Homo sapiens: one gene and its partner. The protein of the gene in region 2 purifies or fractionates together with the protein of the main gene of each other region. This does not show direct contact. Each region holds a gene or a part of one and is shown on either strand. Other genes may lie near its edges.

Region 1 (3,820 bases), on a different chromosome or scaffold from region 2:
TAGATTAAGTGATGTGTAATTCAAGAGTTTTTAAAATGTTGTTACCTGAACAGGTGGGTTAATAGGAAATTATATTGAGTGCTAGATCAGAGCATTGCATATTTCTTACCCTTCTTACTCTCCTGTCTATTTTTAAGCCTTTTTTTTTTTTTTTTTTTTTTTTTTTAAATAATGGAGAGTTTTAGCTTTGGGCTGAGAATTGAGAGCTCATGACACTCTCTGTTTTCTTCCCTCTGATGTCAGCCTGCATTTGACCACATTTAGCCTGCAGTACACACCTCCTGTGGTGGCCTGTGTCTGCATTCACCTGGCTTGCAAGTGGTCCAATTGGGAGATCCCAGTCTCAACTGACGGGAAGCACTGGTGGGAGTATGTTGACGCCACTGTGACCTTGGAACTTTTAGATGGTAAGTTTTAGAGTAAGGGACCTTGAAAAGCACTTGCTGTTGATCTGTCACATAGCTGGCCAAAGGTGACTTGATTCAGATGAAAATAGTTAGTTAGTAGTTCAGGTTATTCTTGTTTCATTACTTCTGTTTCTCTCAGTCTTTCTTGAATGTTCTGTTTTACTTGTAGAACTGACACATGAGTTTCTACAGATTTTGGAGAAAACTCCCAACAGGCTCAAACGCATTTGGAATTGGAGGGTAAGAATCATTACTGTCAGCTTGTGGAACAAAATCAATTTCTTTTGACTGCACCAGTGAATATACCAGTATTGAATATGTACCCTAGGTTTGGAATTGCCCTTTTTATAGTTACACAGTAATCATGACTTCTACTTCATACCTTGGATACTGTTGTAAAAGTCAGTGTCTCTATGGGATAGCAGGATTTGCTTTTCATTGTGTAACTCCTGTGATATGATCATTTGAGCAGTAACACTGGTTCAGTATTTTCTGTGTGGAAACTGGTAGGGAAAAAACATGGCTTCTCGGAGTTAGAGTATTGGCTTCTGGTAGAGGCAAGATAGAGAATTACAAGGTTAGAGCCGGTATCACAGTTTTGTGTTTGACATTACCTACTTTTAAAATGGATTTTAGAATTTTGTTTTTATATAGGCTGTAGTCTGAAGTTGTATTTCAAATACTTGTCAAAGCCTTATTCAGGAATAATGGAATCATTCCTTTTTTTTCTGTCAGATATAAAACTTGTTTTAAAATGTTTCCATTGTTTTCTCCTAAATCCAGACAGAAAAAGTTAATTTCATTCTCCTGAGTTGAGTGAGTGGCAGAGAGTGAGTTTGCCTCTTAGAAGCCTGAGATTAGAAGTAGGCTTGAGAGGCCGGGCATGGTGGCTCATGCCTGTAGTCCCAGCACTTTGGGAGGCCAAGGCAGGCGGATCAACTGAGGTCAGGAGTTCGAGACCAGCCTGGCCAACATGGTGAAACCTCGTCTCTACTAAAAATACAAAAATTAGCCAGGCATGGTGATGCACACCTGTAGTTCCAGCTACTTGGGAGGCTGAGACAGGAGAATCGCTTGAACTCGGGACGTTAGGTTGCAGTGAGCCGAGATTGTGCCACTGCACTCCAGCCTGGATGACAAAGTGAGACTCTGTCTCAAACAAACAAACAAACAAAAAACAACAGTAACAACAAAAAAGAAGTAGGCTTGAGAGCACATCTTTTACTTTAGCATAAAACCTCACCAAAATTTCTAGAACTCAGTTATGGACTAACTATAATCATAAGCGAAGGCATGGATGTTCATGTATGAATTTTAGATAAGCATAGATTCTTTGTTGTTATTATTGCTTTGTAACGTTTGGATAGATTGCTGTGACTCTTAATTGAAGGTTTTAAAATCTTCTCTTGATGGTAATATTTATTGGATTACATGTTAGGATAGCCTCCTGCCTGTGGCCTATCCAGAACTTCCAGTGTTGCTGCAAGTACAATCTACTCATCTCAGTGTTTTTTTATTTAGTAAATTACCTAAGTAAAGAGATGCTATTTGCTTCATTGCAGGCATGCGAGGCTGCCAAGAAAACAAAAGCAGATGACCGAGGAACAGATGAAAAGACTTCAGAGCAGACAATCCTCAATATGATTTCCCAGAGCTCTTCAGACACAACCATTGCAGGTTTAATGAGCATGTCAACTTCTACCACAAGTGCAGTGCCTTCCCTGCCAGTCTCCGAAGAGTCATCCAGCAACTTAACCAGTGTGGAGATGTTGCCGGGCAAGCGTTGGCTGTCCTCCCAACCTTCTTTCAAACTAGAACCTACTCAGGGTCATCGGACTAGTGAGAATTTAGCACTTACAGGAGTTGATCATTCCTTACCACAGGATGGTTCAAATGCATTTATTTCCCAGAAGCAGAATAGTAAGAGTGTGCCATCAGCTAAAGTGTCACTGAAAGAATACCGCGCGAAGCATGCAGAAGAATTGGCTGCCCAGAAGAGGCAACTGGAGAACATGGAAGCCAATGTGAAGTCACAATATGCATATGCTGCCCAGAATCTCCTTTCTCATCATGATAGCCATTCTTCAGTCATTCTAAAAATGCCCATAGAGGGTTCAGAAAACCCCGAGCGGCCTTTTCTGGAAAAGGCTGACAAAACAGCTCTCAAAATGAGAATCCCAGTGGCAGGTGGAGATAAAGCTGCGTCTTCAAAACCAGAGGAGATAAAAATGCGCATAAAAGTCCATGCTGCAGCTGATAAGCACAATTCTGTAGAGGACAGTGTTACAAAGAGCCGAGAGCACAAAGAAAAGCACAAGACTCACCCATCTAATCATCATCATCATCATAATCACCACTCACACAAGCACTCTCATTCCCAACTTCCAGTTGGTACTGGGAACAAACGTCCTGGTGATCCAAAACATAGTAGCCAGACAAGCAACTTAGCACATAAAACCTATAGCTTGTCTAGTTCTTTTTCCTCTTCCAGTTCTACTCGTAAAAGGGGACCCTCTGAAGAGACTGGAGGGGCTGTGTTTGATCATCCAGCCAAGATTGCCAAGAGTACTAAATCCTCTTCCCTAAATTTCTCCTTCCCTTCACTTCCTACAATGGGTCAGATGCCTGGGCATAGCTCAGACACAAGTGGCCTTTCCTTTTCACAGCCCAGCTGTAAAACTCGTGTCCCTCATTCGAAACTGGATAAAGGGCCCACTGGGGCCAATGGTCACAACACGACCCAGACAATAGACTATCAAGACACTGTGAATATGCTTCACTCCCTGCTCAGTGCCCAGGGTGTTCAGCCCACTCAGCCCACTGCATTTGAATTTGTTCGTCCTTATAGTGACTATCTGAATCCTCGGTCTGGTGGAATCTCCTCGAGATCTGGCAATACAGACAAACCCCGGCCACCACCTCTGCCATCAGAACCTCCTCCACCACTTCCACCCCTTCCTAAGTAAAAAAAGAAAAAGAAGAGGAGAAAAAAACTTCTTTAAAAAAACACATAATTTTTCTTTTTTTTTTTTGGACTAAGAAAATTACTTATGAAATATGTCATCCTTGGACTAGGGAATAAATTGATATTGAGACATAGTTAGGAGGGTGGTAGAAGGCCTTGGCTATATATCTGCTGTCTCATGCATTTAACTATTTTCTTACAGTTTTTACTGGTATTAGAGAGGTGTTGAAGCTGTGAAGGATTAAGGACACATTCTGAATTCTTGGCCTCTCCACCATCTAATTAGGTTGATTGGAGTTGATATCTTCCCTCTTCTTGCCAGAGCTGAAAAATGGAGGGTTTCTTGTATCAGACAATTGTGGATCCTTTCGGTGTTTAATATATCAGAAGAGAGGAAGTATTTAAACGTCAAATCTTTTAATAGACTTAATAATTTAAAGAAAGTAAG
Region 2 (3,820 bases):
GAAAAAATATTCAACATAATTAATCACTAGAGAAATGCAAATCAAAACCACAATGAGATACCATCTCACACCAGTCAGAATGCCTATTATTAAGAAGTCAAAAAATAACAAATGGCTGATGAGGTTGCAGAGAAAAGGCAACACTTATACACTGTTAGTGGGAATGTAAACTAGTTAAGCCACTGTGGAAAGCAGTTTGGAGATTTCTCAAAGAACTTAAAACAGAGATACCATTTCACCTAGCAATCCCATTACTGGGTATATAGCCAAAGGAATATAAATCATTCTACCATAAAGATATATGCACATGTATGTTCGTCACAGCACTATTCACAATAGCGAAGACATAAAATCAACCTAGATGCCCGTCACAGTGGATTGGATAAAGAAAATATGGTACATATACACCATGGAATACTACACAGCCATAAAAACGCGAGAACATGTCCTTTGCGGCAACATGGATGGAGCTGGAGGTCATTATCCTAAGCGAATTAACACAGAAACAGAAAACCAAGTACTGCATGTTCTCACTTACAAGTGTGAGATAAACATTGAGTACACATGGACACAAAGAATGGAGCAACAGACACTGAGGCCTACTTGAGGGTGAAGGATGTGAGGAGGGTGAGGACTGAAAAAATACCTATTGAGTAATATGCTTATTACCTAGGTGAAGAAATAATCTATACATCAAACCCCATGACACACAATTTGCCCATATAACAAACTGGCACACATACTCCTTGAACCTGAAATAAAAATTAGAAGATAAAAATAAAAAATAAAATCAAAAGTACATTTAAATACTGTCTCTTGGAAGCCCTACACAATACCCTGAACCCCTCACCCACCACGTTCTTGCTCCCCTATTTCCTTACATTATCTTCTATATACATTCCTAAAGCATTTAGTCCAGCCTGTCTTTATTTCCCCCCTACTCAATACTAAGCTGCTTGAAGACATAAGCCACATCTTCCTTTGACTCTCCCACACCTCAGCCCAGTACATTTTGTGTGGGGGATAGAGGGAATGCAGGATGAGAAAAACCCCTTTTTCCAAAATCTTAAGCAACAATCCAATGTATAAAGCAAAGGCCCCAGGTGCTCTAGACCAGAGGTGAGAGATCCACACTCCTTTCTGCTCCTTTCTCCCCCTCACCAAGGCACTGCCATGGTAACCCTAGGGTTCAGAGCCAGGAGTCTGCAAACCTTTTCTGTAAAGGGCCAAATACTGAATTTTTTAAGCTTTGGGGGCCATATGGTCTCTGTCACAACTATTCAACTCTGCTTTTGTATCACAAAGGCAGCGATACACAATAAGCAAATGAGTGGGCATGGCTGTGTTCCAATGAAGGTTTATTTTTGGATGCTGAAATTTGAATTTCATTATAATTTCATATACTTGTACCACCAAACACTATTCTTCATTTGATATTTTCCTAACAATTTAAAAATGTAAAAATCATTCTTAGCTTGTTGGCTAGATTTGGCCAGCAGGCTATAGTTTGTTGACCCCTGATCTAAGGAGTTGAGCTAGATTATCCCCAAGGTCATCCAACTTGGACATTATAGCTCAGGCAGTCCAGAAGCAACATGAGCACTGTGCAGAGAGTAAAGCCTGAAACAATAGTGCTGACATGTAAATTCTAGAAAGTAGATAACAAAGTGGACTGTTCCAGGTTAGGAGAATTAAAAAAGAAGGAGATTCAAGTTCTGCTCCTACCTCTCACTTTCCCAAGCTGTACGGCACTTTTAAATGCTAGGTAGTTCATCTACCCTCAGAACTTCAACTGTCATCAATACCTCCCAATCCCTCTGAGCTCAATATCTGATCACCAACTGCCTATTAGATATCTACAATGTAAGATTGTCCAAGCATCTGAAACTCATCAGGGCTGAGACTGTACTACTGTACTAGTCATCTCCTCCCGCTAAATCCTCCAGAAACACTGCTCTATTTTGCACCCCCTATCTCCAGGAAGCATGTCATGTATTAGCCCATTCTCGAACTGCTAATAAAGACATATCTGAGACTGGGCAATTTATAAAGGAAAGAGGTGTAATTGACTCACAGTTCAGCATTGGCTGGGGAGGCCTCAGGAAACTTACAATCACGGCAGAAGGGGAAGCAAACACATCATTATTCACATGGAGGCAGCAAGGAGAAGTGTAGAGAAAAGAGGAGGAAAAGCCCCTAATGAAACCATCAGATCTTGTGAGAACTCAGGCACTATCACAAGAATAGCATGAGGGTAACTGCCCGCATGACTCAATTACCTCCCCAGGTCCCTTCCATGACACATGGGGATTATGGGAACTACAATTAAAGATGAGATTTGGGTGGGGACACAGCCAAACCATAGCATTCCACCACCGGCCCCTCCCAAATCTCATGTCCTCACATTTCAGAACACAATCATGCCCTTCCAACAGTCCCTCAAAGTCTTAATTCACTCCAGCATTAACTCAAAAGTCCAAGTCCAAAGTCTCATCTGAGACAAGGCAAGTCCCTTCTGCCTATGAGCCTGGAAAATAAAAAGCAAGTTAGTTACTTCTTAGATACAATGAAATTATAGACATAAAGATGCCTAGATACAAAGACATTGGGTAAATAAGCCTATTCCAAATGGGATAAATTGGCCAAAAGAAAGGAGTTACAGGTCCCATGCAAGTCCAGAATCCAGTGGAGCAGCCAAATCTTAAAGCTCCAAAATAATCTTCTTTGACGCCATGTCTCACATCAGGTCACTGTGAAACAAGAGGTGGACTCCCACAGGCTTGGGCAACTCTGCCCCTCTGGCTTTGCAGGGTACAGTCCCCCTCCAGGCTGCCTTCATGGCTGGCATTGAGTGCCCATGGCTTTTCCAGGCACACAGTGCAAGCTATTGAATCTATCATTCTGGTGTCCGGAGGACAGTGGCCCTCTTCTCACAACTCCACTAGGCAGTGCCCCAGTGGGGACTCTGTGTGGGAGCTCCAACCCCACATTTCCCTTCCACACTGCCTGAGCAGAAGTTCTCCATGAGGGCTCCACTGCTGCATTGAACTCCTTCCTGGACATCCAGGCATTTCCATACATCCTCTGAAATCTAGGCAGACTTTCTTGGGAAGGTTTGGCCTCAATTCTTGACTTCTGTGTACCCGCAGGCCCAACATCATGTATAACCTGCCACGGCTTGGGGCTTGTACCCTCTGAAGCAATGGCTTGAGCTCTACGTTGGCCCCTTTTAGCCACAGCTGAGATGCAGGTCACCAAGTCCCAAAACCTTACAAAGTAGCAAGGCCCTGGGCTGGCCCATGAAACCATTTTTTCCTCCTAGACCTCCAGGCACTTGATGGGAGGGGCTGCTGGGAAGACCTCTGACATGCCCTGAAGACATTTTCCTCATTGTCTTGGCAATTAACATTTGGCTCCTTGTTACTTATTCAAATTTCTGCAGCCAGCTTCAATTTCTCCCCCAGAAAATGGGTTTTGCTTTTCTATTGCATGGCCAGGGTTGCAAATTTTCCAAACTTGTATGCTCTGCTTCCCTTTTCAACATAAGTTCTAATTCCAAGCCATATCTGTGTGAATTAATAAAACAGAATGCTTTTAAGGGCACCCAAGTCATCTCTTGAATGCTTTGCTGCTTTGAAATTTCTTCCACCAGATATCCTAAATCATCTCTCTCAAGTTCAAAGTTCCACAGATCTCTAGGGCAGGGGCAAAATGTTGCCAGCCTCTTTGCTAAAACATAGAAAGAATCACCTTTGCTCCAGTTCGCAATAAGTTTCTCATCTCTATCTGAGACCACCTCAGCCTGGACTTTTTGGTCAAA

Evidence for each region.
Region 1: the proteins of ARHGEF9 (region 2) and CCNT1 purify together in Homo sapiens (affinity purification with mass spectrometry, with the first as the bait; one large-scale study listed by BioGRID). This does not show direct contact.

What each region holds. Positions count from the first base shown.
Region 1 is NC_000012.12:48,692,586-48,696,405, reverse strand, and holds part of CCNT1 (cyclin-T1), read left to right. Parts: intron 1-167; exon of another isoform or gene 168-243; coding exon 244-407; intron 408-576; coding exon 577-647; intron 648-1,969; coding exon 1,970-3,373; 3' UTR 3,374-3,820. UniProt on the Homo sapiens protein: Regulatory subunit of the cyclin-dependent kinase pair (CDK9/cyclin-T1) complex, also called positive transcription elongation factor B (P-TEFb), which facilitates the transition from abortive to productive elongation by phosphorylating the CTD (C-terminal domain) of the large subunit of RNA polymerase II (RNA Pol II).
Region 2 is NC_000023.11:63,775,068-63,778,887, forward strand, and holds part of ARHGEF9 (rho guanine nucleotide exchange factor 9), read right to left. Parts: intron 1-3,820. UniProt on the Homo sapiens protein: Acts as a guanine nucleotide exchange factor (GEF) for CDC42. Promotes formation of GPHN clusters.